6 separate regions of the Homo sapiens genome follow, and all the other regions are reported to be linked to region 6. The links are microRNA targets in miRTarBase. Many come from high-throughput screens and were not tested one by one. Region 6 holds a microRNA gene; each other region holds the end of a gene's coding sequence.

Region 1 (5,412 bases), not on the chromosome of region 6:
TGGAAACCATTTAAACGTTACTGCTGCTTGTCATTTGTCCTACTAACACTTCATCTTATCTGAATAGTAACAATAGATGCTATGTATTGTGTGCTTACTTGTAGTTAAGCATTTTCCAATAATGTTATCATAATGTGCCTGTGCAATAGAGGTGTGATTCCCATTTTTCAGATTAAGCTCAGATCAGCTGAATGGGGCATTTCAGAAGTTTAAAACTATGTTTCTTTGTCTGCAGAGGCTCGTGAGAAGAAGATAAAAGTTCCTCCCTCAAAGGCTGTTATGAGGTCTAAATGAGACATAATGCATGTAGCGCAGCAAGCTTAAGATAGTCTTGGCCTCTAGCAAGGGCTCAGGAAGGGATCCCTCTTTATTGTTATAATAATCATTATTATCATTGCTATGATGGCTTCTAGTTCTACCTCTATTCCCTATTACTGTTACTCTTCAATTACTGCTGCTAATACTAATTGGTAATGATAATAACAATTATGGCTACACAGGGCCAGACTCTGGGACCATACCTGTCTCAGTCTCAGATAAGAGGATCTATTATACGGTGGTAATTTAGGAATAAAACAGGGGAAGGCTTGACAGCTGATTTAAGTCACAGTCATTTGTCATTTCCTGCTTCTCTTTGCACTCACTGTGACTACAGAAGCCACATGAGAGTCCGCTTGAAGGAGGCTTCCTGTCACTCCTTGTAAACTCACACCAGATGTGTGCCTTTTACATTGGCTGCCTTGGGCCAGGGTTCACCCTAGGGCAGGAAGTTGGCCGGCTGTGTCCACTTTACACCATGCCCCAAAGCCTGCAAACAGCTGCGCTAGAAGGACTATAACCCTCAGCACCTCCTGGACCTGTGTTTGGATTAAGTGGCTCTTCACCCTTATTTGCCATCCTGAGAGAAATCTGACATATAGGTGTCATATTTTATTCATAATGTACTAATTATTGTTCCTATACAAATGAATACTCTATAGTCCACCAGTTCCCAGAGCAGCAGTTCTAAAAGCAAAGAAATTAGAATCAAAGAAGTACCTCATATTGCTGTATTCCTTAGGTTGCCTTATTGATGTGAATAATTGTGTTTCATTTATCTATTACTATGTAACAAATCACTCTAAACCTTAATGGCTTAAAACAATTTACTGTTTCTCATGATTTTGTGGATTGAGCTGGTGGTTCCTTTGCTGTTCTCACGTGGGTCACTAAGTGATTGCATCCAGCAGGCACGGTGACTGAGGCCGGGTTCAGCAGGGATGTCTGGCATGGCTGGGACTCTCTCTTGACATGTTATTTTCATTCCAAGCTTCTTCACAGTATGGCAATCTCAGGGTCGCCTTCCAAGAGAGGGAAAACAGAAGCTGCAAGCCTCTTGTGTATGGCAGAGCATCATTTCCATGGCATTCTGTCAGCCACAGCAAATCACAAGGCCAGCCCTAATTCAAGGAGAAGACAAACAGACTCCTCTTGATGGGAGGGGTGGCAATGTCACATTGCAAATGAGCATGGGAGGAATTGCTGTGGTGTTTTGTTGCGGTCTTCGAAACCAATCCTAATACAAATTTTGAAAATACATTCTATTAAAAAGCTGCACCGTCATTGATCATGCAGATGCTTCACTTTTCCACTAAGATGAGGTCTACATTGTTAAAAATAGTTCAGTACAAATACTTCATGGGGCTAATTTGGAAGCATTCTTGACATAAGATATTGAATATTTAGCTTCTTCAAAGATAAAGAGATTTGGCTTGCTGGGGCAGCCTGTAAATGTGTGCGTGCTTGGAGTGTCCACATGGAAAGAATCACTCATTTATTCATGCCTGCATGCATTCATTTATCCATGTATTTGGACATACATTCCTATGCAAAGCTCTAAGCTAGGTACTGGAATAGAGCAAATACTCAGATTAATTAAACCAATAGAATCATTTTATATCCTGTGATTTTTTTTTAGTTTGTGTGTGTGTTTTTAACTCAGCTACTTATTTTTTCAAGCATGAGCTCTTTCTTTTCCATATGAACTTCTATTAAGAAGTTGTATCTAATGAAATGCAAAAATAAATATAGCTCATAGTATACTTCACATGTAGACACTGGAGACATGCTTTTTCTTAAACTTACACTTAAAGCAATATTAGATATGGATAAAAAAGCCTGAGATTGAGTAAGACATTAGATAGGCTACAGAGCCATGATAGTTTCATGACCAGAGCATCCAATGACAGCCCACACAAATCTTGGGCACTTTGGGATTTCTCTGGTGGCAGGTACAAATTTGAGCACCATTCATTCATTATTTGTTTATTTATCCAGAAAATATTTATTGTGTTTTCACTATGGGTTAGGCCTGTTCCAGGTGAGAGATACTGGAGTCAAAAAAAAAAATAGTTCTTATCCTCATATAACCTAAATTCTAGATAGAGAAAATTGAGAACAACAACAACAAAAAAAAATACGCAGTCTCTCAGGTGGTGATAAACAGTATGGAAAAAAATAAAGCAGAGTTTAAGGAATGAGGGGAAACTATCAAAAGAGATGGAGAGGGGATGGACAGTGAGGTAAGAAGAAAATCAAGATGAAATGGTGTCCCATTGTGTGGAAAATATTTCAAGAGGAGTGACAATTGTTTCAAATGCTTAGGAGAGGTCAGGTAAGCTGAGGACTGAGGACTGGACATTGTGTTTGACCATGTGGAGGTCATGGAGTGGTGATGAGAAAAGCCAAATTAGTTTAAGTTCCAGAGAGGATGAGAGACAAGAAAAGGGAAACCAAAAATACAGAAAACTCCTCTGTAGATGTTTTGCTGAAAAGGGGTGTTGAGGAATGGGGTAGATATTGGAGTGAGATGAGGGCCACAGGAGAGAATTTTATATGATAGGAAATATGACAGCATGTTGGTGCTGATAGGGATGCCCCAGGACAATGGGTAAACTGATGATGTAGAAGAGAAGGGCACTTGCTGAAATGATGTCCTTGAGTAATTGAGATGGATGGGTTCTTCTAGACCAGATTTAAAAATTCATGTCATTAGACATGTTGAGTGTATACCCAGAATATATATGCATCTATTCTTAAGTTTTATTTATATTCTACAGCAGTAGCATGTTTCATATATTTCAAAGCACATATAAAAATATAATCAGATGCTTTGTAGAAGAAAATATAAGAATAGAAACCCCAGCATTTTCTCCAAATATCCCATAGTCTTAAAACACATACTCCGTAAAGTGCATACATTTAACTTTGGAGTTCTTACCTTTAAACAATGTCACTGTTTGGCACTGATTTACCTAAAAGCAGTTGGAAGAAAAGAACTCGATTTTTCGAACTTGAGAATCTGAGTTTTCCCCGTTTTGATTTCTATCTAGGAAGCGTTTTGCCTTAACCAACCCTTTACAAAGAGTAATAATTTGAAAATGTAACCAACTTGAAATGATTTAGGTAAAAGGTCTAATTCATAAGCAGGTTCTTCAAATGTTCCTAGAGGTTACTTTTGTCACACATAATGTCACAAAAATGCAAAAAGTACTCAGAAAGGAGAACAACTGCATTTCAATTTTTATTTGTTGCCATTGGGTCACTTTTTTGGACCATAAGTCATTCCCAGAGCTTTCTCTGAATCCATGAATGAAGGACAAAAGTATACATCCCATCGCTGGTATACAACAATAACTTTGACCACATGATAGGAGAAGTGAGAAATGTAGCCAATTTTTTCCTGTAGTTTCCATGTAAACATATGGCAGTTTACACAGAAACTACAGAAAGTACAGAAACCTAAAATGAAAACTAAAATTTGTTCCCAGGTTGAAAAGAGGAAAGAGTTTCAGTGATAGCCACTAAAGCCACAGAAGACTTTATTCTCTGGAAGATGTTTTTGCTAATTATAAGGCTGAAATTACTGGCACAGACTTTTTTTGCAATTGGCTGATATAATATAATAAAACAATGGTGTCGAGCGGAACCACTGTGAAAGTTTTTAAGGTGGTCAAAGGAATCATTCCTGTAGTTCCAGTGTAATCCCAGTTGCAGATTAACATTGTCAGGTATGTCAGAGATACCTGAAGTACAGTCATCACATTCACAGTGTGTGGATCCCCATCTCGAAGGGACACAATGCTCCTAAATCAGTCTCTCCATTGCAGGGGGTGGCATCAAGTTCCACATTTCCACTCGGGAGCCCTCCTTCTCCTGACGGCTGGGGCTGTAGGTTCCCTGAGTTGCCCTTTTGTTGGAGGTGACAACAGAAGCAACAATGGCCAGCAAGAGGATCAGTAACAAGGCGACAGTCACTGAGCCAATAGTGGTGAAAATGTCGGAGATCAAGTCATCTGCCAACTGGAAAGATTGAAATCATTGGGATGCGAATTCTATAGCAAAGGCAAATAAATATTCAGGACAATGGAACTACTCAGGAATGAAGACCAACCAGAGCAAGCTGGTACCACTCAGTACTGTAAAAAGACCAAGGTATTAAAAGAAAGTCAGATTTTCTTATTCTCAAATCATTTACAAATAATCATATATCTAGAATCTAAAGTCTACAGTCAGAAAATATGGCATGAAATACCTACTATATTTGCTCAGTCTCTTAATCTCAGTGACTGAGATGATTCATGTAGCAACAAAGGCAAAAGATGAGCCCACACTTATATTTATAAAATGATTCTAGATCTATAGCCACGTATTATTCATGATCTCTTTCCTCCCTTGCCAAAAGTTCTAATTTGGGACTGAAGAAATGGTTATTTTACAGTTTTGTTTTGTTGCTTTGGGAAAGGAAAGAAATTAAATTAGTTGGGTCTTGTGGGAAAAATTCTTGACACAGAGGAGGGACTGTGATACGCTGGTCTCGCAGGGGGTTTCCAAAGGAATCACTCTGATTCGGATTCAACATGGCAATTGAATGGTTGTAAAGGCACATGTGCTTAACGCTGAATCCAAGTATCTAGCAGCAGACAACGGCAGGTAGAGCCCTGTCAAAGGGAGCTGGATCCTGGGCTCTCAAAGTTGTTATTTTTACACAGTGGTTTGATTAATGTTAATTCCGATGTGTTTGCAAACACTTTTTAGCAAACCTGAGCTCTTATCAGTTTAACAATGGCTAACATGAAACTGTGACTGAGTTGCACAGAAATATTAAAGACAGAAAGGAGTTACTGTTTGAATTTTTAAACTGATTTTTTCAAAGACATATTTCTATCAGAGTAAATCAGTAGTAAACTCTTTTACCTTCTTATTTAGCTTTCTCTAGGACTCATCCCCACGTTACCAAACCAATCTATTACAAATGAAATCTGTGTTTAACATCCTAGAGAGTTTAAATATCTTTTCTATCCTTAGTCTCTTTTTATTGTCCCCTGTGTCTTGGTTTAAATTATTATACAATTAATATAATATTTTAACAGC
Region 2 (5,412 bases), not on the chromosome of region 6:
CAGAAACTGGTGAAGTTCGTGAGGATCTTAAACTGCCAGAAGGTGAACTAGGCAAAGAAATAGAGGGAAAATACAATGCAGGTGAAGATGTACAGGTAAAGACTTAGAGAAGGATTATTTTTGAAAACCATTTTATAAAAACTTTGACCTCAACTAGTTAACATAAAATACTACATATGGAATGTGGTTTAAAAATACTGCTAAAATGTTGAAAATGATCTCTCAGGCAGGTTTTCCATAAAACCCTTAGAGACTCATTATCAAAGAAAGTATCAAAGTTCATTTTTGCTACATCAGCATTACTCTCAAACCCAAATTTGTTTTGAAGCTCTGCACCTGACTTTTTTTTTTTTTTTGAGACGGAGTCTCCCTCTGTCACCCAGGCTGGAGTGCAGTGGCGTGATCTCGGCTCATTGCAACCTCCGCGTCCCAGGTTCAAGCGATTCTCCCCTCAGCCTCCTGAGTAGCTGGGATTGCAGGCGCGTGCCACCACATCTGGCTAATTTTTGTATTTTTAGTAAAGATTGGGTTTCAGCATGTTGGCCAAGCTGGTTTTGAACTCCTGACCTCAGGTGATCCCCCAACCTTGGCCTCCCAAAAGTGCTGGGATTACAGGCCTGAGCAAGGCGCCCAGCCCTGAGCTATTCTTACAGGTAAGAAATGATGCTAGTGGAATGTTAAAGAGTGAAGGAGATTTACTGTCTTCGTTACAACTTTCAGAAATGTAACGGGTAGTAAGTGTTCAAACATTTATAGTTATTTTTCCTGTTCCCTGGAAGTTGTCTTACAAACCACTCTGAGAAATTCTGCTTTAGAAAACTGTAAAGAAAGTAGCTTGTTTTGGAATACCCCTTTCAGAAGTCCATATGTACAAAATATCCACAAATATACAATATATGAGGAACTAATTATATCTTCTATATGTATTGTCTTCTGAATAACGTTTTGCCTGCTTTTTTCCTTCTAGGTGTCTGTCATGTGTGCAATGAGTGAAGAATATGCTGTAGCCATAAAACCCTGCAAATAAACGGAAACATCAGGCATGAACACTGTTTATGTCTGAATCAACTGCAGATCTAATTTGGTTCTAAGTTGTCACCAAAGCTATAGCCTTCATAAGCAACCTCATTTCTTTTTTTAATTGTTTTCAGATTGTGCTGGGTTAGTTTTGCAAGCAATTGATAATTTTTAAAAAATTATCAATATGTATAATTTTTTTTGAATTTTGTAGATATGTTTCCTATAATATTCCTGTGGTTTTCAGTATGTCAGTCCAAGAAACAAACAAGATAGCTTCAGCAGATGTGATTTGTCTGAGCAAATCATTCCTGTGTTTTAGTTAGATGATAAACCAGGGTTTTAAATCAAACAATGTAGCATAAAGTGGTATTGAAGTACCATATTTAAGTTGAACTGCTCTGCATTAATTACAGATTTAATATAAAATGAACTGATTATATATTGGAATTGTTGCACTTTCAGCCTGTGTAGGGCAAACACAAATCCTTAAACAAAAATCATGTTATCAAAAACTGTCAGTTATTTTGGTGGCCACATGCAACCATGTGATTACTTTGGTCATACTATTTACCAAATTGTTGGCAAACTTGATGTAACCTTATATGGTGGTTTTAGTCCCTTCTTATGGTTGGCAGAAGGGCACTGAACTGTTGGGTGAAAGTTAGTTAGCAAGTAAGATTATAAGGAAGACACAAAAGACAGTGGCAAAGAGGGTTGATTAAATCTATAAGTTTTTATGTGAGGACTTTGTAAGTCAGCATAAAAATGAAAAGTTGTTTCTCAGTTGTTTTTGCTTTTAACTTTGCCCCCAACGTTTAAAGGGAGTGATCTGCTTTACATGATACTATGCAATGCTTGTTTTCCAACTATGTTGAATAAATAGTAATATTTATCAGTAAATACTCCTTTCCAACTTCCTTTTTTTTTTTTTTTTTTTTGAGACTGAGTCTCACTCCATCAGCCAGGCTGGAGTGCAGTGGTGCAATCTCGGCTCACTGCAACCTCTGCCTCCCGAGTTCAAGCAATTCTCCTGCCTCAGCCTCCCAAGTAGCTGGGACTACAGGTGCATGCCACCACGCCCAGCTACTTTTTTGTGTATTTTAGTAGAGATGGGGTTTCACCATGTTGTCTAGGCTGGTCTTGAACTCCTGACCTCAGGTGATCCACCTGCCTCAGCCTCCCAAAGTGCTGGGATTACAGGCATGAGCCACCACACCCAGCCCCTTTCCAACCATTTCTAAGTAGATTTTTTGACATTAATGTATTTATTAAACAAAAACTGAGAATTCCTTAAATTGATTTGGAATTTTTGTTAATTTTATGTCCTTTTTTTCCTAAAGTGAATTAAAGTGAATCATGGAAGCAGCATTACTTTATATGAATATTATTATTTAAGTTAAGTTATTTTAAGTATATGCATTTTTTCTGATTGTTGTGTGACTTAATTCAGTTGCTGGTGTGAACTATAACTAGCAAATAATTCTATAAACTGAATTATTTTAAAAGGTATTTTAGGTGACACCACTGCATTTCTATTTCATCTTTTGAGTCATATGTATATTATTTCCAGAATTTTAGACATTATTACAGGGTTTGTGAGGACCTTTGACTCAGTGACAATCATCATATTGGAGCAAAACATAGAACAAAATCACTATCTCAGAAATACCTTAATTCTCTAAGACTGGCTCTTAGACCTCTCCCATCATGCCTTGACCTCTAAAAAGCCCTTTGTTCCTATCTTCTAAAGGAAAGTATATCATATATGATGATGTAACTGATCTAATCAGTGACTGGAAATAGCATTAGTAACAGAAGATCCCAAGTTTTAGTTGCTTAATTTGTACACACTTTTAAATATTGTCTTAGCCTCGGCAAACCAATTTGGGGAAGAAGCAAGATACTTTAAGAGAAATACAAAGGAAATTTCTAAAGCACAAGAAATAGTGAGGTAGTAGTTAGTCGTCTTTCCTACAACATTTTAGCTTTTGCCCATCTAAAGCACAATTAAAATTAGGCTACATTCTTTCCAGTATTCTATTTAAGTACCTACTACATACTGCTCTAGTTTCTTAGTACTCTGTAATGTGTATCTTAATTGCTACTGGTTGGCATTGTAACTCATAGGAATTCCAGAAAATTATTAATCCGTGCTGCTTGCAGTTCATTCATATGGCCCCTCTTAACCATGCTGGTGTTATGATTCAGTATTAACTCTCAATTAGCATGCCCCTGTTCTTCCTAACTTGTAAAATTTCACATAAATATATTTTCAATTGTGTACAAATTAAGGGTGTACAAATTATAATAATGCATCTCTATCTTCATACTTTGAATGGCAAACGCTATTTATGCATAAATATTTTCATTTTAAGTAATATATGAAGTGTAAATACTCGATATATAAGTATAGATTTTAAAGATATGGGACTTTATTTTCACATAAGTCAATAGATGTTTCTCTAGAACAAAATATTTAGTAAAGCTTTATAAATTATATTAAAAGGAAGCGGGGAACATGTATTTTTTAACATAGAACAGAAGTGACTTCATTCTTTTTAGACATCAGAAATGTTAAAGTTGATTCCCAATATTTGTTGTACTTTTTTGTAGCAAATGTTAAAAATCACGAGTTACCATGTATAGAATGTGGACTGTCATGTTGATATCATTGTACAGTGATAAGCCATTTTTATCTGTATACATTTCACCAATTTATTAACAGGTTGAATATTTGTTTCTTTTTAGAACATTTTATTTATACTGTGAAGACTTTGTTATACCTTATTTGCTACAACATAGATCATATCATTGCTACTTTGACTTAGCATTTGCATCATAAACATAATTATGATGTTTTTTTCATGCTCCCTTCCAGGGGCTCAGTCACTTGAAGAAACTGTTGCTAACCAAGCTCTTGACTCTGTTTCCCTTAATGATACAAGTCTCTGTACCAGCGCTTTATGTTAATTACCAAAACTCTCCTGCATCAGAGCATGATATCTATAATAGGAGATACTGCAATAAAATGATTAGGCTGTAAAATTTGGAGACACAATTTTTCATTACAATGCAATTTGCATGTGCACATGTGCGCACATAACTTTATATGTTAGTTCTTTTTTCCAAACTCCCAACTCTTAAAAGTATTGTAGTCTGTTGGTGCCTCAACTGTTGGTAACTTTTTTTTTTTAAATTTACAACTTTCCACAACTTGTTTTTGTACTTTAAGGTTTCTCAATTAGAATATTTCTAGTTGAGCTGTAATTTGAATGCATTGTTCTCAGGGCTATTTGTGCTAAAAGCTGAAATTTCATTATTTTAAAGCTAATTGCCTGAAAATATATTGGCAGAATTTTCCCAAATTGTAATAACTGTGATACATGCATATAAAAAAATCCTTAATGTCAACACACTTAAACTACATGCTAAATAGTCAAGAAAAAAATGGAAACAGTAGCATCCATACTGGAATCTTGCCATATTTTTTTCATTTTAGAATAGATTTTGGCAGTCTCATCTTAGAATCCTATCCTTAGGATACATCTGAAAGCATTCCTTTGGCATGGACCCCAGAGATAGTTTTGGAGCCAGGCATTGATGTAGAGGTTCACCAAACATATTTAGGGATAATAGATAAATTCATAATGCTTTTTTGGGTACACTGAAATGTTTACATACTGAATTCTGTAATATGAACTAGGAACGCATTTACTATGAGAAAATATGGCTCTTAAGCAGTGTAAGAGTGAAAATATAAGCATATTTCCATTAACAGTATATTGTACTGATCAGCAGCTCTCATTTTAACATCAGTTAGGCATAATATTTCATAGTTTTCAAGCCTTTTTTTTCTGCTAACATTCAGACAAGTAACAGGCAACAAAGATTTAAGAAAAATTTATGGTGGAAAACCTTAAAAATTGAGACAATTCAATCTATTTAATCTATTAAATTTTTTCTCTGAATTGGGTATATGGCATCATTATTTGATTTTAGCAGGGAACATTTGGATTTAGCTTATGAAACACAGATGTTCTATGGGAACATGGCTTGAAGCCAATATGTAATTTAATGTTTTTCCATTAAACAAACATCTGAACACCAACTTAGCTACCAAGTGAGGTCAAGTGCCTGAAAAGTACTGTATACATCTAATAAGCATGTTTTCCTTATGTAAAAGATGCACTTTATGGCAATGCATACCAGGCTTTCACCTGCTAGAAACATACTTGTTGCCAACTTTGCCATCTACCACTATTCTCCTCCTTAGAACAGGTAGAAACCTATTTTACAAAAAAAAAAAAAAAAAAAAAAAGACAGGTTATTGTATTTATATGAAGTCCCTAAAACTGTTTCTTGGTATTGATAGACTTAAGTTTATCTTAGTTC
Region 3 (5,378 bases), not on the chromosome of region 6:
AAAAGAAGGAATAATGGAACCATCCCAGACAACCCAGGAAAGTTTAAGAAAGAACCAAACAACTCTTTTGAAAATAAAAAAAATAATAACTATAATTAACAACAGATGGGTAAAATAGGTTAGAGATAGAGTGAAGACAGTATTAATGAAATAGATTTAAAGAAATTATCCAGAATTCAACACCTAGAGACAGAGAGATGGGAAATATAAAACAGGGATTAAGAGATATGGAGAGGACAGTGAGATCATAAAACAGAAGTCTTAATTTTATTTCCTAAAGGAGAGAATAGAGAGAATGAGGGAGATACAATATTCAAAGAGACAGTAGCTGGGAATTTTTCAGAATTTATGAAAAGTACCAATTCTCAGATTCAGGAATCTCAATCAATCCCAACAGGACAATGAAAAGAAATATACAGCTAAACATACTGTAGCATGGCCACATTTGACTGTAGAACACCAAAGATAAAGATCTTAAATATGACCTGAGAAAGAAGGCAGATTAGCTACAAATACTGATCAGACTGACAACTGTCATTTCAGAAGCAGCAATGGAAGCAAGAAGACAGTAGAATATTATTTGAGAAAACAGCTGTCAACCTATAATCGTATACCTAGCTAACTTTCAAGGATAATAAAATAGCAAACTTCTAGGTAAATCTACATAAACACTGACTATACAAAATAACTACTTTTGTAGTAAAATCGAGATAGAACTAGAATTCTAGACAACAATTTGTAAGTTGAAGAGATAAATCAGACTTTGTACAAAAATCTCTAAAGAATAGGAAGAGAGTAAAGATGTTAATTTTAGATTCTGTTAACTACGCAAGTTAAATTTCCTACTAAGCACTTCATTAAAAGTTAATTTTTACATATAAATAAAATACATATCAAAACTGATTTGGAAACTGGGAAATGTTTAACTTTGAAAGCAGCAGAAGAAAAGTAGATGGAAAAATGAAACAAAACAAACTCAAGCTGAAAGAAGTCAAGAAACAGAAAAGGTGGGACAAAAAGCACAAAATAAGATGATACAAATAAATCTTAATATATCAGTAACTTTGACAAATGTAAATGGATTGAACTCCTTAGTTGACAAATGATCAGAAAGAAAGAAAAACATCCAGCCACACAGTTTTTTTTTTTTTTAAGACAGAGTCTCGCTCTGTAACCAAGGCTGGAGTGCAGTGGCGCAATCTCGGCTCACTGCAACCTCTGCCTCCTGGGCTCAAGCAATTCTCCTGCCTCAGCCTCCTGAGTAGCTGGGACTACAGGTGCACACCACCACGCCCAGCTAATTTTTGTATTTTTAGTAGAGATGGGATTTCACCATGTTGGCCAGGATGGTCTCAATCTCCTGACCTCGTGATCTGCCCGCCTCGCCCTCCCAAAGTGCTGGGATTACAGGCGTGAGCCACCGTCCCCGGCCCCAGTCACACAGTTTTTAAAGGGCATATCTAAAACATAACAGCAAGGTTTAACAGAAGGATGAAAAAAGATATATCCTATAAATCCAGCTAGCTGGCATAATCCATATAAATATAATATATAGTTTATGTATTTTTATATTTATGTATATATTTATAATTATTTATTTATAACAAGACTTCAAAATATATAAAAATATATAAAACTAAAATTGACAGAATTACAGGGAGAAATTGGTAAGTTCACTAGAATAGAAAATTTCAACACATCTCAGAGTCTGAGAGATCAAGTAGAAGACAAAAGAATAGTAAAATGGAAAAAATTTGAACTACAAAATTAACAACTTTGGTCTAATGGACATCCAACAACTAAAAAACAAGCATACTTTTCAAGCAATCATGAAACATTTACAAAAACAGGTTATAATCTAGGTCATAAAGCAAATCTCAACAAATATTAACAGATCAGTCTTAACATGTACCTATTTTCTGTCCACAATTCAAATTCAATTAAAACAGGAATCAATAAACACAGAATTTAAAAATATACACGCTAGGAAATGGGAAAAAAAAGCCTCATACATATGTTAGTCGAGAAAGAAATCATAATTAAAAATTAAAAATACATAGAACTTAACAAATCTTTCTATGGTGCTTTAAAATTATAAAACATTATTTCATTTGATCATTGCAATAATCCTATGAGCTACATAGAACCCACAATATCTCTGCTCAACAGCACAAACACAGCAGAAATGTTACAAACTGGCTAGGCACAGTGGCTCATGCCTGTAATCCCAGCACTTTGGGAGGCTGAAGTGGGCAGATCACTTGAGGTCAAGAGTTCGAGACCAGCCTGGCCAACATGGTGAAACCCCTTCTCTACTAAAAATATAAAAATTAGCTGGGCATGGTTGTACATGCCTGTAATATCAGCTACTCAGGAGGCTGAGGAACAAGAATTGCTTGAACCCAGGAGGCAAAGTTTGCAGTGAGCCGAGATCGCGCCACTGCACTCCAGCCTGGGTGACACAGTGAGACTCTGTCGCGCAAAAAAAAAAAAAAAAAAGGAAAGAAATGTTACAAATTATGTAGTTATTAAAATTGTTTTTTACATATAAATAAAATATATATAAAAAGTGATTTGGCAACTAGGAAACAGAAGCAAAAGCGTTCACCACTAAAAATATCAAAAGGAAGGTAAATAAACCAACTCTTATAGAAGCTATGTCGAATATCAAAAGGAAGGTAAATAAACCAACTCTTATAGAAGCTATGTTGAATAGTTAAAAATGTTACAAGAAACAATTGAGTATCTTAATGTCTAAAGCTCAAAAAGCCCATCAATTCATTTTGGTTTAGGAAGTCCCTTAGGTATTTATGGAATAATAAACAAACTTATAGGGTAAAGTATTTATTATTCACATGAGATGAACACAAACTATCAGAAATCTTTGCTATACAAGTTGGGTAGCCACAGTTAAGAATATATTCCCTTCACACACACAATCTTAATTTCTTGGTTACAGCATTCGTTCAATGATGTGTTGGCAATTAATCGCATTCCAAAAAGTGTCTACGGTACAAAGGGAATTTTCATTTAAGGCTCCCCTCCCTTTTCATGTGTGGGATATTTTTGGAAGTATTTCTTTTTCCATCCACTGAATTAAGAAAATTCCAACATGCCTTGGTGTCAGCAAGTGCGCTTTTTAGTCCAGGTACCAGCAAATGATTGATGAGCCTGTCAAGCCTACAGTAGCGGATAGAGAAAGTTGGCAGAAGTTCAGTGTTATTGAAAAAAATCTCAAATACTTATTTCATCTCCTCTATTAACTTTAATCACATTTTCAACATGCAGCCAAGAATGAAGCTTTGACAGTAAGCCATACATTTACACAGGCAGGCATTGTCAATTTTCTGCAGTCGCCACACTGAGATAACACAAGAGAGCTGGATATTTTCTTTCTTGTGCCTTTCTTTACTAAAGAGCAATAAAAAATATGTGAAAGATTTATCCATACCTCAAATTTGTTTACCATAAATCTCGAAATTATTGCATTTACTTTTGCTTGGTTTATGGCAAATAAAAAATCAACTTAGTTCTTCAGTTAGATTTTTTTTTTGTTGAGATGGAGTCTCACTCTGTCACCCAAGCTGGAGTGCAGTGGTGCCATCTCAGCTCACCGCAACCTCCGCCTCCTGAGTTCAGGTGATTCTCGTGCCTCAGACTCCTGAGTAGCTGGGATTACAAGCGTGCACCAACATGCCGGGCTAATTTTTGTATTTTTAGTAGAGACGGGGTTTCACCATGTTGGCCAGGCTAGGCTTGAACTCCTGACTTCAAATGATCCGCCTGCCTCGGCCTCCCAAAGTGTTGAGATTACAGGTGTGAGCCACTGCACCCAGCCTCAAATTAGACTGTTAAATGCAGGTTTTTAAAGATCACAGTGATGACAGAACTGGTACATGTTTCATCATAATATACCTGCTTATGAGAACAGACATTAACACTAAAAAGGATTTACATTTAACATGGACCATTTGCTGTGTGGGCAAACACTTCTGGTTCATTCAAAGCCAGGAACTTTATATGGTTCCAGAGGGACTCTCTGGCAGATTTTGTTGATTACTCATTAAACAGTCGAAACATGTATAGACATTATTTATCTTATAAAGCTTACCCACAGCAAAACAGACACAAAAATGAGGTAAATACTATGGGCAAGATTATAGCTCTTGGAAAAACTAAATGTCAAAATATATTTTTGGTAAGCTTTTCCTTCTAAGCATGCTTTAAAAAGCTGAAAATAGTAAGTGCTGGAAGGCCACAAAACTTAACATGTGTCTTCCCATCCACGGAAGCCCATGGCATTATGCTGCACTGTAAAATATGCAACGCTTCCCAAGAGGCAGCTCAAACACCAGCGTGGCCATCTTTGCCACAGCAGAGACAATGTGTTCACTCTCACCTCTCTGAAATGTGATCTCTGCTCCAAGGACAGCTGGCTTTTTTTTTTGTCTACATTACTCATGCAGTAACACTTTATACATCCTTCCAACAGCCAAGGAGGCTATGACAGGTAGCTTCTATACCTTCCCATTAAGCCACAATAATAAACTATTGTTAACCCTGTATAGAAATGAATGAAATTATCTTTCTAAGAAGTCTATACCTACAGTTCTCTGAGCTAATCAATGGAAAAGATGATCAATTCTGACTAACAAAGAGTATATTGATTCCATTTTCCTTCCTACTCCTCTTCATTCAAATAATCATATATAGGCACTTAAAGCTGGAAAAATGTGGCACCCTTCTTTAAATATCCAATCAGAATGCCAGTAGAAACTTCTTTCTTCTGATATAAGAGTGCCACTGAATATATTGCTAAGCTTGAAGCAGAGGCTAAACGGTCTGGTGGGAATAGTTTTCAGGAGAGAGGTGAACATCTTCTCATTAGTTTGTGATTGTTGTGGTTCAAGTTCTTAAAAGGTTGAAAATTTCGCTAGGTCCTTCTCCATCTCAGCATATTGTTCTTTAAGCCTTTCCATGGCTTTTCTGTGCTCTTCATCCACTTCAGCCCTTTTGTTGGGTTGCTCCTTCATGAAGTTGTCCCACTGGAGCATATGCTGTTTCTCACTAGCTACTAAGTGGTCACTATGAATCTGAGAAAAGAAAATTAGAAAGTCACACGACATTTTCCAGACAATTATTTCATAACGTTATCTCTTGATACTTGGTTACCGTAACAATCAGCTGGTAAGTCACAAGGAAAAAGTTGTGTTATAATATCCAAAAAAAGATGACACATTAGAAACATCTAAGGCTTCTCTCATTAAAATTAAACATGGATATTCTCATTTCTTAAATTTTAAAAGTGGGCTGGGCACAGTGGCTAATGCCTGTAATCCCAGCATTCTGGGAGGCCGAAGCCGGTGGATCACCTCAAG
Region 4 (5,412 bases), not on the chromosome of region 6:
GGATTGTACTGGCCTAGGTACAATTATGCTGTCATTGATAAGCAACTATGGAAGTCTTTAAAAATCCTTTTTTTTTTTTTTTTTTTTTGAGGTAAGGTCTTCCTCTATCGCCCTCCTTGGAGTGCAGTGGTTTTGAATATGGCTCACTGCAGCCTTGACCTCCCAGGCTCAAGCGATCCTCCTGCCTCAGCCTCTTGTCTAGCTGGAACCACAGGCATGCACTGCCATGCCTAGCTTTTTTTTTTTTTTTTTTTTCCTTGAGACGGAGCCTCACTCTGTATCCCAGGCTGGAGTACAGTGGTGCGATCTTGGCTCACTGCAGCCTCTGCTTCCCTGGTCAAATGATTCTCATGCCTCAGCTTCTGGGTATCTGTGACTTCACATGCCATCACACCCAGCTAATTTTTGTATTTTTAGCAGAGACAGGGTTTCGCCACGTTGGCCAAGCTGTTCTTGAACTCCTGACCTCAGGTCATCCACCCGCCCTGGTCTCTCAGTGTGCTGGGATTATAGGCATGAACCACCATGCCTGGCCACCAGCTGATTTTTAAAAATTATTTTTGGAGAGACAGGTTCTCACTTTATTGCCCTGGCTGGTCTCAAATTCCTGGCCTCAAGTGATCCTCCTACCTTGGCCTCCCAAAGTGCTGGGATTACAGGTATGAGCCACTGTGCCCAGCTGACAAATTCTTAAATACAGAATTATTTTTAGTTTAGCCTCAAAATCAAGTATTTGATGTGTTTACATGTAGATTCATTTTAAATGCAGAAATTCACATATTGAAAACAACACAATTGAAAACTAATTTTATCTCACTGTAACAAGTGCATTAGAGACATATATATATTTGCACAAATGTTGCTATTCTCTTTGCAGAGTTGGTCAAACGCCATGCTGGGGTGCTAGGACTTGGTGCATGTGTTCTTTCTAGTCCTTACGATGTTCCCACCTGGATGCCCCAGCTCCTCATGAATCTCAGTGCACATCTAAATGATCCTCAGCCTATTGAGGTACAGTTCTTCCTTATTAGTTTGTACGTGTATTATCAGTGATGTTTTCTAAGAAACCATAATAATAATTTCCTATACACTCTGAACTAACTGCTTTCATAAAGCTGCTGCCTCTGCCAAGGCTTAGTCTGCTCACCAGTAATTATTAAAAAATTACAGAGACCTTGCTGCCATGGATATTTGAGATCTTTTGGTAGTGAGGAAATTATTGTAGCTTCTATCCCTCCCAGTCCAATGGAAGTAAAGTACTGTCAATATTGTTGTGATAAATTTTATGTTTCTATTTTTCTAGCACTGCAAAGTATTTTACTGGAAGCTAATATTAAATAGGAAATTATGATGGCATTTTTAGTAACTCAAAAGACCATTCACTTTGTCCTTCTCATTGGCTTTTTGGTTTTGTAGAACTTGGTATTGTGTGAGATCTGAAGTCTAGAGGGACGGTAATTTAACTAAAAGTATCCTACATATGATCCTGGTTGTCCAGAGAGGTTAAAACGTATGTGGGTTGTCTACTTTACAGATGACTGTAAAAAAAACCTTATCCAATTTCCGAAGGACTCACCATGACAACTGGCAGGAACATAAACAGCAATTCACTGATGACCAACTGCTTGTTCTCACCGATCTTCTTGTGTCACCATGCTATTATGCATAGAAAGGTAAGTCAGCAAAGTTCTGAATTTACATTGGTTTGGTGACTGAGAACTAGATATTTATTGTTTTTTTTCTTTTTGCTGACATTCTTAGATGTCAGTGTTTAGATAAAGTTGGATGGCGGGGATTGTTTGTTTTTAAACATGGCTTTTGCTACGGCCATTGGAAATGAGAATTTTGCTGTGCCTCCTTGCTTTAGGTTTAAAGCAGAGAAAATGTGTGACTGCTTTTGGACCTTTGTAGATGAGTGGTGTCAGCCTGGGAATAGTTAGATAAAGGAAAATACATCTTATTCTTGGTTGCCTCCTGGGTGGGGCTGGGACATTTTGTGTGGCCCTGAGGACTCTGGGTTCTAAAAGTTGTGAGAACTTGATCTGGATTCTTACACCCATTCTGTTAAAGAGGGAGTACCCAGAAGCCTTTCTACTGGAATAGGAAGAATAAAAATTTCATTTATTAGGCTTTTAGAGTTGGATGTCTTGTTACCTAATTGAAATTTTTTCCTCCCTGATACAGATGACTAGTCCTCACTTCAGGCTCTTTTCATCAAAAATTCCACACCCTCAGGTACCATCTGTGGTGGCTCTCTGCAAGTTTTAAAACTGCCTCTGCTGAGCTCTCATCATTTTGGTGGTTTCTGTGTTAGATCTCGTTAGTCTGCATTCCACAGCTTCTCAGTTGCCATTTGATTTCCCAACTTGTCCGGAAGTGTTTCCAGAATACTGATCACTTTTTTTTTTTGAGGCATCTGACAAAGTCACAAAGTCTCAGACTAGAAATAATTACCCAGTATGATCATGGCATCCAAGACCAGAGTCTCAGAACTCATTAAGAAACAGTTTACTTGGAATGGAGAATACCCATCTGTAATACAGGTCCTGTCATTTCATTCATCTCAAATTATTTTGAATTCTTCCCAAATGGCTGCTGGATTTAGGTGGTAATAGGGGCTGTGGGCCATAAATCTGAAGCCTTGAGAACCTTGGGTCTGGAGAGCCATGAAGAGGGAAGGAAAAGAGGGCAAGTCCTGAACCTAACCAATGACCTGATGGATTGCTCGACCAAGACACAGAAGTGAAGTCTGTGTCTGTGCACTTCCCACAGACTGGAGTTTTTGGTGCTGAATAGAGCCAGTTGCTAAAAAATTGGGGGTTTGGTGAAGAAATCTGATTGTTGTGTGTATTCAATGTGTGATTTTAAAAATAAACAGCAACAACAATAAAAACCCTGACTGGCTGTTTTTTCCCTGTATTCTTTACAACTATTTTTTGACCCTCTGAAAATTATTATACTTCACCTAAATGGAAGACTGCTGTGTTTGTGGAAATTTTGTAATTTTTTAATTTATTTTATTCTCTCTCCCTTTTTATTTTGCCTGCAGAATCGTTGAGAGACTAATAAGGCTTAATATTTAATTGATTTGTTTAATATGTTATATAAATGTAAAAGAGTGTATAAACTGTAGAGATAGCATTGGCAAGACATTGTACAGATGCAACCTTTTACACAACATCATTGTGTAATTTGTAAAGATTCACGTGTAGTTCTTTATTATAGTGATTTTGGGCTTTGTACCCACTGAATGCCATTTTTTGTGTTTTTAAATTATTTTCTTTATCTTGTTACAAAAACTGAGATGTGGGGTTTTTTTTTTTTCAGTTCACTTATCATTAGAATGTCTGAACTTTTATGTAACATTTTTGTGTGCATCTCTCAATGCTAACACCACATGTTTGCCTATGACAAGTTTATAGAGTGAAAGGTATCTTCTGGGTTGAAATAATTCACAAATTGGTGAATGTCATCTTGCAACACACCCTGTACAGTCTTCCTTAAAGGAACACTACAGTATATTTTTAGTATCTACATGCTGAATGACTGAATACAGACCTAAGCACAGCAGTGGTCCTGGTACAGTATTTAAGTGTCGGCATACACAGGCGTAATCCCTGTATAAAGTAGTGCCAAACTGATTTCAGTTGTGTAACTAGTTTAAAACCCAATAAATGGATTCTTTTTAACACCTGGCTTTTGTCTTCATTAAGAGGAGAAGACAGTTCTGTAGGCAGTGACTCCTGTGGATTTCCTTTTGCAGCCATAGATTTGTATCTGTAAATGTATGTCCTCTGACCAGTATAAATTATCTGGATCTGCCCTGTACAATACAGTAGCTACTAGCCATATCTGACTATTTATATTTAATTAAATAAAAAATGTATTCCCTCAGTCTCACCGGCATATTTTAAATACTCTTGAGCCACATGTGGCTAGTGGTTACCACACTGAATAATATCGATGAACTTTTCCATCATCACAGAAAGTTCACCTAGCACTGACCTAGGTGATTGATTGTTTTTGTGTGGAGGTGTGGGAGACAGAGTTTTGCTCTGTCATCCAGGCTGGAGTGCAATGGCACAATCTTGGCTTACTGCAACCTCTGCCTCCCATGTTCCCATGAGGAATGCTCATGCCTTAGCCTCCAGAATAGCTGGGACTATAGGCATGCACCACCACGCCCGGCTGATTTTTGTATTTTAGTAGAGACAGTTTCACCATGTTGCCCAGGCTGGGGTCAAACTCCTGAGCTCAGGCAGTCCACCTGCATCGGACTCCCAAAGTGCTAGGATTACAGGTGTGAGCCACCGTGCCTGATCCTAACTGATTGGTTCTTAAATTGATGTGCCTAAGAATCATGAGGGGATTTTGTTTAAATGTACAGGGAATTCATTGTTCCCACTTCATGATATCAATTCCTGGTCCTGAGGCCACACGTTGAGAAGTGAGGCTTTATGTTGTATGTTGACCACTTCAGCTTTTTTTAGTTAAGCTGTATGAAACTGCCTTAGCAATGGTTCCTAAATGGGAACTTTAAACAAAGATGTAAGATACTGGGTGCCCTCTCTGTTCCTCAGTGAAAACTTCTCTGGCAGGGGTGCTTAGGCATTACAGTATTAGAAGCTCTATGATGATTCAGTTGTTCAGCCAGGTTTGAGAACCACACGAATCCCACCACAGACCTAAAAAGAGGGTACCTTAATCTGAGTGCCTAACATGCTCCCAGGTGATTCTGATTCTGGGTTTGGAAGTCGCTTATTACTTTGATATTTCCCTAGTGACATTGTCCTATGAATTAATTGTTTACCAATAGGAAAAATGAAATTTTCTACCAGGAGGGAAAAGGAGAAAGGGGGTGGAGAAAAGAGTTGCATGGCTTGTATGGTCTAAGATAGTTCTTAACATGTATATGGTGTGTTAAAAAGCATGAGGACAGCAGGAACTGTGTTAAGGGTGGTAACAAGATTTACTAGAGGAGGAGGGGAGAGGCTGACCTGTGTTTGGAAGTCACTGTTGACTGGGCATGGAAGACAGTATGGGCCACTCTCTGAGGGTGGATGAGAAGTGAGGAGAAGAAAAAGCCTATTTATCTTTTTATAAGGTCAAATAAATCTTTAGTTTCTGAATGGATCCTTTAGAAAGCAAAGACTGCAGATTGTCCTTCAAAATGTAGGAGGAAAATTTACTCACCTATTAATGTAAATGAAAGTTTAGGTGCAAATATATGATAAAGCTGTTTTCAAATATTTGAAATACTTGTCATTACCAAGCCCTTTAAGCCGCAGGCCACTTTTGGTAATTAGGAGTGTGGCCAGAAAGACTAAAGAGCAATTTTGTTTTATTAAAAAATTAATTTTGGCCAGGCGCAGTGGCTCACATCTGTAATCCCAGCACTTTAGGATCGCTTGA
Region 5 (5,412 bases), not on the chromosome of region 6:
CATAGAGCAGCCCCGAGGGCTGCTGGTTGTCCATTTTTATGGTTATCTCTTGATGATATGCTAAACAAGGGGTGCATTATTCATGCCTCCCCTTTTTAGACCATATAGGGTAACTTCCTGACCTTGCCATGGCATTTGTAAACTGTCATGGCACTGGTGGGAGTGTGGCAGTGAGGACGACCAGAGGTCACCCTCGTCGCTATTTTGGTTTTGGTGGGCTTTGGCTGGCTCCTTTACTGCAAACTGTTTTATCAGCAAGGTCTTTATGCCGTGTATTTTGTGCTGAACTCCTATCTCATCCTGTGACTTAGAATGCCTTAACCGTCTGGGAATGCAGCCCAGTAGGTTTCAGTCTCATTTTACCCAGCTCCTATTTAACATGGAGTTGCTCTGGTTCACACGCCTCTGACAAAACTCCTGGGCTCAAGTGATCCGCTTGCCTTGCCCTCCCAAAGTGCTGGGTGGGATTGCAGGTGTAAGCTACAGTGCCCGGTCTGGGGGGCACCTTTAAACCAAGTCCCAGCCTTTGCCTGATCTTGCAGTAGAGCTCTGGAGCAAAATTATATCTGAGTTTGTTCAGACAAGTCAACTGGGCTTTTATACTCCTGCACCAGTGAGTCACTGGCTAAAGTCAATCCAGAGGGGTATAAACTTCTAAGCACTTTCAATTCTGTGGGTGCAGGTGAAGCCAGGCCATGGTTTGAGATGCAAAGAAGTGGCCTGGTAGGAGTGGGGTGGTGGAGGCTGTTTACTGACAGTGCTCACTACAGTGGAACAAGAACCTTTATTACTTCCCCTCAATATATTCCGATTTTTCTTTTTTTGACAAAAATATTTATTTTTCCAGTGGAGCCTCCCTACCTCCAGATGAACTAGTTGGAAATGGAATTGTTATGGTACTGAATCTACAAATGGATTGCACTATGTTCCATGCAAAGTTGACTTTCCTCCCTTCCCTTTGCCACATCCTTCAGAGTGCGGCAGTAAATTCAGAAAGTATCATCAGTTGTGCAGTTGAATGCAAAGGCTGGGAATGATTGATCTCTCCCATTAAATAAATGTTTAAAGAATGATATCAAAATTTTGAGAAAAGAACTGCAGTTAATTAAAACCCAGGAATAATATGTCTGCTTAATTAAGATTGGAGCTCCAGTGAGGATCTTAAAATAAACTATACTTTGGATTGATTCAGATAATCTTTTATTTTTGTTTTTGTTTTCTTTAAAAGTGGTATGTCAACATCACTTCATTTCTACATTTCAGCGTTCTGTACATTTCTTAAAAGGAAATAAGCAATGCTCAATGTACAAAGTAAAAACAGAAAACTAGAAAAATCTGAATAAAATGGAGCAAGTTGCCAGAGGTCATACAGTACAAATTAGTAATTAGATGTCATCTGAAGTGCAATACCACTGCTGTGATGATGAGTTAAGGAATGAAATAAAAATACTCTATTTTAAACAAACAGTATATATATATTTATATGTATATTTTTTACAGATAGTAGACCCAGTGATATCTGCAGTATTGTAAAAACTTATGTACAAATAACTTTTTTTAGACATTACATATACATCAGCACCGTAGTAAAAACAAAACCAAAACAAAACCACCATATTAAAATCTACCTATTAGTTGGTCCCAGTACTGAGCATTTGGAGGAAGCTTTTAAAAGATAATGGAGCCCCCCACCCCTGTCTGTCTCACTTCCATTAGCCACCTCCAGTTTCTCATCATTGCTTATATATTTATTTCCTGTACCTTTCAGGAAAAGGTAATTATGTTTTGTGTCTTCTCATTTGTTTGTTTGCTTTTTTTTGGTTTCATCTCTTTGATCCACTCAGTTTCCCCAGTGGCATCACTCCCCATTTGGGGAGTTCAGGGTCACCCTGCTGCCACCTCTTCGGAGAGGGCGCCCAGCCCCTGCCTGGGCTTCTCACCCACCAGGCACCTCTGGCCTTACATCCTGCCCCTTCCTGAGCAGCTCTACAACCCCGGGTACGCGGAGAGCAAGTCAAAGGCAATGTTTGCCTGCCGCCTCCTCTCCAAAAACACCTCTGCCCCCAGCTTTCCATGGCAACTCGCCTTCTCAGGACTGAGTGTGGCCAGTCCAACCCCACAGGCTCCGACTCTTCCGTAGTGATCTGCCTGGGAGTGCACAGAAGGCAGCCAGCGTCTAGGACACGGAGGGAGGAGGGGACAGGAAAAAAGCACACGCCACTCTCACTTAGGACGACACCGAAGCCACAAGTCCTCCAAAAGGGGGATTGGGAGGGGAGGCAAGGAGCCTTGTTGATTCCTTCTGACAGATTTCGCTTAGGGCAGATGTGCGTCAATTGCAGAGAACAACTGTACAGGACTTTGGAAGAGGACTACTTTGCCCATATGAAATAAACTACATCTCCTTTCTATCCAAATTTGTAAGGTGGAGCAATTGCTTTTTTAGCTCCTCCACCTCTCTGGGATTTTATATTTGTCTTTCTGATGAGTAGGGATGATGGGAAAGGTGGATTTTTAGAGCATCACTCCCAGGATTTCGCCCAAAGGGAGCCTGAACCAGTGACCTCCAGGCCACTCCTTCCTGGGGATATCAGAAATATCAGATGTGGCTCACAAAAAACCGACTCCCAAACATCAGAGCAGCCCTCTTGGTTCCAGGCAGATATTCATTCAACGCTACACGTTAGAGAAAGAAGACTCCAGTGTCGCCTTTGCATTTCAGGCATTGTCTAAGTTCTTCCTGCATTTATGTGGACTCTGCCCAAGGCTCCCTAAAGACATAAGCTTCACTTCTTGGATAGTCTGTAAGGAGAAGCAAGGGGAGGCTGGTGTGGAGGCAAGGAGGAATAAAGGCAGGGCTGGAGACAAAGGCTCCAGGCTGGCAGACACACAGGGTCCAGTAGGGGTTTCCCTGCCCTGCGGCCGCCAGAAGTAGATGTGACCCACCTGGATGTATGGGTTTTGTATTGGGCGCCAGCAGGCTCCAGCCCCACCTGGAGGGACTGCCACCAGGGGCACCAGCAGAGGGAAGCCGTCCCAGGACTGCCGGATGGACCCTGCTCCAAACTCAGCCTGCTCTCCTTGTGACAGCAGAGCCTTTGCAATTCCTGAGGGTCATCATGGGGCAGGAGACAGACAGTCCTGTAGGATCTGTGGTTGTCTCCTTTTGACAATCTCACTGTTCTTCGTGCCTGCCCTCCAAATTCAGTAGCATGTCTCAAAGCCTTACATCTCTCGGCACCCAGAGTTCAGTGCATTTCCAACCTGTGCACCTGGCCTGTGCAACCACCCAGCCTCTTCTGGGGGACTCACTCTCCCTGGCTGAGGCTCTGTCTCTTTTGTGTCTCCAAAGCTGCTGTCTCCCGACCTGGGGCAGGAGGGGCTGAGGATACCTCTCTTGGGTAATAGTCCCTCTCGGCTGAAGCAGCTCCTGCTGGGCCAGGCGATCACAGGGCATGCTGGGCAGAGGGGCTCTGGCCGGCTTCATCTTCCCACCTGCTCCTCCGGGTGTCTCCCTCTCTCGCAGCCGGGATCTGCATGGCGTCTCATCTCGATTGCTGTGTGAAAATCAGGTGAAATGAGGCCTGGTGGGGCTGTGGATTGGCACCTGGATCTTCCATTGTCAGCCAGCTGCAGTTTTGCTCAGTTTACGTGGGTCAAAAAAACAAAAAACAAGGATGGGTCAACATCCTGTTTCTTTTTCACTTTTTAAGCTTTAACCACTCGAGTTGTGGATCTTGGGGCCTCTCTTGATTAGGGGTTACCAAACAATTCATCAAGCTCCTGCATCCACTCGTCCCCTGGCCCGCCTTTGATGATGGAGTCCACAAGGTCTGCACCGTCCGGGAGGCCAGGGAAGGAACCCCCAGCTCCGTCGCCACTGTAATTGTATGACACGTCCTGAGGGGCATTCCGCTCATAGGCTTGGCTCTGGCTGCTTGGAGCAAAGCTGCCACTGGGTATCTGCTGCTGTGCTGGGGGCTGGCTGAACGCTGGCATGCCTGGGACTCCCTGGCTCAGGCCAGACATGACCATTGGCCTCGCCTGGCTGGTGCCTTGCTGCCCCGGGAGCGATGGCATCATCTGCCGACCCATGGCAGCTGGGTTGAGGGTCCTCACTGTGCCCGTGTTAGCATCCACGACTGACTGGCTCAGTCCCTGTGGGAAGTGCTGCTTGGTCAGTCTCGGCTGCCCAGCTTGAAGAGGGTAGCTGGCGCCATTGTTGAATGGTCCCAATTCTCCACTAGTCCTCCCAGGCATGCCCTGCAAGCTCCTCTGTTGCCAGCTTTGTGCTCCTTGCTGGACTGTTCCCATAAGGCTCTGCAGCCTTGGAGGGGCTTGGGGCCTAGGCAAGGCCTGGCCTACTGGCCCTTTCATCTGTGGATGTTGCTGGGTAATGGCTGAGTTCACCAGCATGCTCTGACCAAAGCCACTCACCATTCCAACCCCCTGCCCAGAGGCAGGTTGCCTCGGTCCCTGGGCTTGGTTATGTGTGATGCTCATGCCACTTTGGTTTGGATGCTGCAACATTTGGGTCATGCCTGTGCTCATATTGTACATTCCTGGTTGGCTGGTAGGCGTGGTGCTATAAGGGGCCAGTCCCATCTCCGACTGCGCAGCTGCGGTGGCCATCGTCCCAGGGTTCTGGGAGGGTCCTATTCCCATCATGCCTGCGTTCTGTGCCATCAGCCGTGACGTTCGCATGCTCTGGAGGGCTGCTTGGCTTCTTACGGCTGCTATATCCTGGGGAGAACCTGCAGTGAAAAAGAGGACACATACCACTCACTCTTCTCCATAAGCAATATACTGCAACAAGATGTTGGAATTTTCTTTGGGAATGACAAAATTCCTTTATATGAAAGGATCTACTCTGATAATAAATCTGTAACAAAAATGATTATTTTTCTGATTATAGCATATGCTGATTGTGAAAATTTTGAAAGTGTTAAAAAATACAGAGACAAAAATTAAAGTCACCTGAAATCCCACTATCCAGAGATGATCATTCCTATTCTTTTATTTGTATATAAATAGACACCCACAAAAATTGGGATCGTACTGTGCATGTGTTTTTGTAGCTGACTTTTCCACTAAACAGATCCTGATGTAATTCTTGTTTATACTTCAGAAGCAAATTATTTCGTACTCTTATAGGTATGACATCATCCTCAACCAATAAGATACTATTTTCTTTGGAGGTGAGAGAGAATCCACCTCTGGGGCTAAATTAGAAAGAAATGGCTGATCACTTTGTATTTTCTATTTGTGAAGTGGAACATGGTTCAGTAGAGAATACTATCAATAAAGACCATTAGACTAATTTCCCTTAAGACTTGAGTAGGATTTGAGAGGTTAAAGGCCACTGCTTCTGCTAAGCAGCTATTTTGACAGATAGGACATTTTTCGGATCCA
Region 6 (5,412 bases):
GCACTCAGCCTGTACTGGGCACCCAACATATTCCCGGAGTTCTGGGTCCTGTTGGTTCTGGAGGCATAAGACATTTTTTGTCTCTGCCTTCTGTTCTCTGTTTCTTGCTCCTTTTGTCTCTCCGTCCATCCTTCCATCTGTTCTACCCTCCCTCCCCTGGCTTTTTCCTCCCTTTCTCCCTCCCTCCCTCTTTCTCTCCCTTCCGGGGTCCCTCCTTCCACCCATCCTTGCCTAGCTCCATCCTTCCATCTCACTCTGTCTCTGTTCCTGTCCTCATCTCTGCCTGCCTTCCCTCTTGCCTGGAAAGGGCAGCACCCTGGTTTGCGCGAGGTCTCGGGTCTTTATTTAGTTGTAAGGCGCTCTATGGTGCTGGCGAGGAGGCTGGCGGGACACGGGTTGGCAAGTGATGGTGAGCGAAGAGGCGGAGGAGTTGAGCCACAGAAAGGAGAACTGGCCTGGATTCTGCCCCGGCCCAGTGTTTCGCGGACTGAGGTCTCCGCCAACCCGATTGAAGAACGCGGGGGGGAAAGGGAGGAGAGCTCCGCCTGGGCTAGTTAGAAGACTAGGCTGCTGCCTGGAAACCCGCGCATGCGCAGTAGACAGCCCACCTCCCTGTACCTGGACCGGCCCTGGGATCCCCGGGATGCTCAGGAATGCTTTCTTTTCATTGTTGACAGCCCTACTCTGTGTGGAGTCTCTCGCTGGACCTGGAACTCAGGGATCCTAGGGAGGTCAGCTGGAAGGGAAGACACGCCTCTCCATACCAAGCCTGAGGTTCACTGCAAAAGAGAGGCCGCCGCCCTGCCCCCACCCTGCCCCCACCCTGCCCCAAACCCGCCCCAACCTGCTCCTCCAGCAGAGCCCTGTGTTCTTCCTGTCTGAGGAGTGGTTCCAGCAAAGCGGGCTCTTCCACGTCCTTCAGCTCCCCCAGTGGCGCCGGATCTAGGAAAGGTTGTGCCTTTTGCTGAAACTCTGGGGTTGACAGGAGCTCATCTAACAGGCTGGAGGTGAGTGCAGACGAGAGCCCCGGCTCCTGGAGCGGTTGGGAGGTGCCCGGTTGGCTGGCATCTGCGCTTGACGCGGAGGCCTCCGGGGTCACGAGCTCGGGAGGTGAAGGTGCCCCGTCTTCGGGTTCCCATGCCGCCCTGGCGACCTGGGGCTCCAGCCCCACCACGGACTCCGGTGGGACGTGGGTGGTGCAAGCACACCTTTCCCCTGTGACTCAGCTTGAGGGGCCCCAAGCTGTCCCACTGAGCACGCGCCCAGCAGGCCGTCGCGCTGTGGGTTCTGGTCTTCCTGTCATTTGTTGGGGTTCGGAGGCCACCAGGGAGTCTGAGGATGGGAGAGCCCCAGTTTCGGAGGGAGGGGCCAGGACAGTGAACACAAAGCCCCGCATGCTCGGGCAGGTTGGGAGAGTCCTTCTGCCTGTGCAGCCTGGCTGGGCTGGAGCAGGGGGATGACCCTTGCTTCCTGGCTCACGAAAGCCCCCTGTGGGAGAGCCCCAGGAGCGCAGGGCATGTGGGGTGCAGGAAGCGACGTTCCCCACGCCCCGGTGTAGGTGAACCCGATAGAGGAGGGAGGAGGGTGACACCCACCAGGGGTGCTAATTAGTAACCACAGTGGCCTCAAAGAACTCAAATGAAAGGAAGACTTGCAAGTCTCTCACTTTAAGTCCAGAGCTAGAAATGATTAAGCTTAGTGAAGATGTAGAATTTTCATAGCTAGAGAGAAGTCAACACTTGGCTTCAGAACTTCAAAGGATGGGCTGACTCTCTTTGAGGACCACTGCAGCTGGTGACTTTAGGTTACAGCCAGTGCTCATTGACCACTCTGAAAATCTCAGGGCCCTTAAGAATTATGCAAAATCTATTCTTTCTGTGCTCTAGAAATGGAACATCACTGTCTGGGTGACAGCACATCTGTTAATAGCATGGTTTACTGAATATTTTAATCCCACTATTGAGACCTACTGCTCAGAAAAAAAAAAAAAACGATTCTTTTAAAAAGATTGTTGGTTGGCCAGGCATAGTGGCTCATACTTGTAATCCCTGCACTTTGGGAGGCTGAGGATCACCTGAGGTCAGGAGTTCAAGACCAGCCTGGCCAAAATGATGAAACCCCATCTCTAATAAAAATACAAAAAAAATTAGCCAGGCATGGTGGTAGTACCTGTAATTTCAGCTACTCGGGAGGCTGAGGCAGAAGAATGGCTTGAACCCTGGAGGCAGAGGTTGCAGTGAGCCGAGACCGCACCACTGTACTCCAGCCTGGGCAACAAGAGTGAAACTACGTCAAAAAAAAAAAAAAAAAAAAAAAAAAAAAAAAAAAAAAAGAAAAAGAAAAGAAAGAAAAGAAAGAAAAAGAAAAAATCAAAGGAAAGAAAAGGAAAAAAGAAAAAAAGATTGCTGCTTATTGACAATTCACCTAGCTCCCCAGAAGCTTAGATGGAGATGTACTTGGAAATTAATGTTATTTTCATGGCTGCTAGTACAATATTTACCTTCAGCCTGTGGATCAAGGAGTGGTTTTGACTTTCAAGTGTTTTTATTAATTAATAATTGCATTTTGTAAAGGTATAGCTGTCATAGATAGTGATTTCTTTGATGAATCTGGATAAACTGAATTGAAAACCTTTTGGAAAGGATTCACCATTAATCCTTTCATGATATTTGAACCTCCTCCCGTGAATCACAAATGTCCTTAATAGCAATCCTTAAATGCCATTAAGGACATTTGTGATTGATGGGAGGAGGATGAAATATTAACATTAACAGGAGTTTGGAAGAAGTTGATTCCAGCCCTCATGGATGACTTTGAGGGCTCAGGATGTCAGTGGAGGAAGTCCCTGCAGATGTGGTAGAAATCACAAGACAACTAGAATTAGAATTAGGGCCTTAAGGTGAGATGAAATTGCTGTAAACTCATGATGAAACTTGAACAAATAGGGAGTTGCTTCTTATGGACGAGCAAAGAAAATATTTTCTTGAGATGGAATATAATCCAGGTGGAGATGCTATCAACATTGTTGAAATGACAACAAAGGATTTAGAATATTCCATAAACCTAGTTGATAAAGCAGCAGCAGGGTTTGAGAGGGTTTACTCCAATTTTGAAAGAAGTTCTACTGTTGATAAAATGCTGTCAAACAGCATCACATGCTACAGGGAAATCTTTTGTGAAAGGAACAAACTTCATTGTTTTAAAAAATTGACACAGGTTTCCAACCTTCAGCAGCCCCCACGCTGATTAGCCAGCAGTCATCAATATAGAGGCAAGACTCTCACCAGCAAAAAGATTATGACGTGGTAAGTCTCAGATATTCATTAGCATTTTTTAGCTCTGACGTATTTTAACTTAAGGTATGTACACAGTTTTTTAGACATGCTATTAATTAATAACTAATAATTATTAAATACTCATTAGACTACAATATAGTTTAAGCATAACTTTTATAAGCACCGGGAAATAAAATGTTTATGCAACTAACTTGATTGTAACATTTGCCTTATTGAAGTGTTCTGGAACAAAACTTACACTATCTCTGAGGTGTGCTTGTAGGTTTTTGTTTGTAACATTTGCCTTACTGCAGTTGTCTGGAACCAAACCCACAATATCTCTGAGTATGCTTCTAGGTTTTTGGTTGTTCTTTGTTTTGAGATGGGGTTTCGCTCTGTCGCCTAGGCCAGAGTGCAGTGGCATGATCATAGCTCACTGCAGCCTCAAACTGCTGGGTCAAGTGATTTTTCTACCACAGCCTCCTGAGTAGCTTGGACTACAGGCATGCAGCACTATGCCTAGCTATTTTTTTTTAAATACTTTTTTTGTAGAGACGGGATCTCACTATGTTGCCCACCTGGTCTTGAACTCTGGGGCTCAGGCAATCCAGCCACTTCAGCCTCCCAAAATGCAGACATTACAGGCTTGAGCAACTGCACCCAGCTTGTCTGCAGTTCTTAAAACAAAACGGCCAGGTGCGGTGTGTGACGCCTGTAATCCCAGCACTTTGGGAGGCCAAGGCGGGTGAATCACAAGGTCAGGAGTTCAAGACCAGCCTGGCCAAGATGGTGAACGCAGTCTCTACTAAAAATACAAAAATTAGCCAGGCACAGTGGCGGGCACCTGTAGTTCCAGCTACTCGGGAGGCCGAGGCAGGAGACTCGCTTGAACCCGGGAGGCGGAGGTTGCAGTAAGCCGAGATCGTGCCACTGCACTCCTGCCTTGCGACAGAGCAAGACTCCATCAAAAAAAAATGTAATTTAAAAGATTAAAAGTTAAGATAGATTTTTACAAATGTATATATCTACCATTATAGTATCATACAGAATGGTTTTACTGCCGTGAAGATTCTCTGTGCTCTGTGTATCCATCTCTTCCTTCCCCTTGGTCCATGGCAACCACTGATCTTTCTACTGATCCCATAGTTTCACCGTTTCCAGAACGTCATATAATTGGAATCGAACAGTACGTAGACTTTTCGGATTGGCTTCTTCTTTTAGCAATATGCATTTAAGTTTCCTCCATGTATTTTTTTGTGGCTTGATAGTTCATCTCCTGTTAGCAGTGAATAATATCCCGTTGCCATTATACTTTTGTCAAGACTCAGAACGTACAACGTGAAGAGTAAACGTGAATGTGCACTGTAAGCTTTGAGTGATAATGAAGGATCAAGGTAGGTTCCTGGTTGTCACAGGTGTGCTCCTGTGAGGCAGGAAGCTGTAGTGGGGAGGCTGTGTGTGGGGAAAGGGACATATGAGAAGTCTGTACTCTCTGCTACGTTTAGCTGTGAACCTGCACTTCTCTAAAAAATAAAATTAGTTAAAATTAAAAGCAAAAAATTAGAAAAATTAAAACATTACAATGTGTTATATAGTTTTCAAATCACAAGACAGAAAAAGACATAATAAAAGAAACTATAGAAAACAACAAGGATAGGAATAAAACATCAGTGATAGAAGGCAGAAGACAGAAATGTGGAGCCAAACACATTAATTTATTTTAATCATTAGTTATACTCATTTATACTAATTTATATTGATTTAACATATTAATTCTGACTAAATGGCATTAAAGGAGGTCTGAGGAATTTGCATGTCACATTCTGGATGACAGGACTCAATAATATTAACTCTTTAGTTGGCTGTAAATCATTTAAAAATATGCTCAAATTCCAATAAAAATTCCAAGAAAAATATTTTCGAACAAGAACATGTGATTTTAAATCCATATATTGAACACACACATACAATGAGAGCCATTATTATAAAATTTACTATAAGATATTTAAGATTATTATCACTATCCAAAATTAAACAAATTTGAAATGGCACAAAAATAAACACATTAATGAAAGAGAATTAAAAACACAGAAATTGAGTGTAATTTTATCTAGTAACAGGGTAACATTTTAAACCC

Evidence for each region. The annotated mature microRNA hsa-miR-4477b reads AUUAAGGACAUUUGUGAUUGAU and lies in region 6 at 2,723-2,744, shown strand. An mRNA with a match to its seed (bases 2 to 7 or 8) in the 3' UTR can be bound and repressed. Matches are read on the target gene's strand: a 7mer-m8 pairs with bases 2 to 8, a 7mer-A1 pairs with bases 2 to 7 and ends in A, and an 8mer does both.
Region 1: the mRNA of CRB1 is a reported target of hsa-miR-4477b. Seed matches in the 3' UTR shown: 7mer-A1 at 3,982-3,988.
Region 2: miRTarBase lists EIF5A2 as a target of hsa-miR-4477b. Seed matches in the 3' UTR shown: 8mer at 1,504-1,511, 8mer at 2,308-2,315, 7mer-m8 at 4,419-4,425 and 7mer-A1 at 4,935-4,941.
Region 3: the mRNA of BLOC1S5 is a reported target of hsa-miR-4477b. Seed matches in the 3' UTR shown: 7mer-A1 at 3,030-3,036.
Region 4: miRTarBase lists PSME4 as a target of hsa-miR-4477b. Seed matches in the 3' UTR shown: 8mer at 3,498-3,505.
Region 5: the mRNA of MAML3 is a reported target of hsa-miR-4477b. Seed matches in the 3' UTR shown: 7mer-m8 at 1,429-1,435.

What each region holds. Positions count from the first base shown.
Region 1 is chr1:197,476,593-197,482,004 of GRCh38, reverse strand. CRB1 (crumbs cell polarity complex component 1) reads right to left here. Exons shown (of 12, transcript NM_201253.3): 12 at 3,550-4,341. The coding sequence ends at 4,126. Among named protein-coding and RNA genes, the nearest start is that of CRB1, 210 kb to the right of the region's middle.
Region 2 is chr3:170,888,975-170,894,386 of GRCh38, reverse strand. EIF5A2 (eukaryotic translation initiation factor 5A2) reads left to right here. Exons shown (of 5, transcript NM_020390.6): 4 at 1-95; 5 at 968-5,412. The coding sequence ends at 1,027. Among named protein-coding and RNA genes, the nearest start is that of EIF5A2, 17 kb to the left of the region's middle.
Region 3 is chr6:8,010,736-8,016,113 of GRCh38, forward strand. It overlaps BLOC1S5 (biogenesis of lysosomal organelles complex 1 subunit 5), which reads right to left. Exons shown (of 5, transcript NM_201280.3): 5 at 2,832-5,093. The coding sequence ends at 4,914. The region is part of intron 4 of BLOC1S5-TXNDC5 (BLOC1S5-TXNDC5 readthrough (NMD candidate)); the gene reads right to left. It overlaps EEF1E1-BLOC1S5 (EEF1E1-BLOC1S5 readthrough (NMD candidate)), which reads right to left. Exons shown (of 7, transcript NR_037618.1): 7 at 2,832-5,093. Among named protein-coding and RNA genes, the nearest start is that of BLOC1S5, 51 kb to the right of the region's middle. RefSeq lists a silencer at 1,316-1,524.
Region 4 is chr2:53,862,346-53,867,757 of GRCh38, reverse strand. PSME4 (proteasome activator subunit 4) reads left to right here. Exons shown (of 47, transcript NM_014614.3): 45 at 878-1,011; 46 at 1,535-1,673; 47 at 2,185-3,689. The coding sequence ends at 1,669. Among named protein-coding and RNA genes, the nearest start is that of GPR75-ASB3, 5.1 kb to the right of the region's middle.
Region 5 is chr4:139,715,570-139,720,981 of GRCh38, forward strand. It overlaps MAML3 (mastermind like transcriptional coactivator 3), which reads right to left. Exons shown (of 5, transcript NM_018717.5): 5 at 1,184-4,754. The coding sequence ends at 3,754. It also overlaps a transcript of MGST2 not described here. Among named protein-coding and RNA genes, the nearest start is that of MGST2, 52 kb to the left of the region's middle.
Region 6 is chr9:63,816,901-63,822,312 of GRCh38, forward strand. It overlaps MIR4477B (microRNA 4477b), which reads left to right and starts at 2,674; the gene lies at 2,674-2,754. LINC00537 (long intergenic non-protein coding RNA 537) reads left to right here. Exons shown (of 2, transcript NR_146626.1): 2 at 678-2,129. It also overlaps the pseudogene DUX4L50. RefSeq lists enhancers at 732-1,270, 1,271-1,807.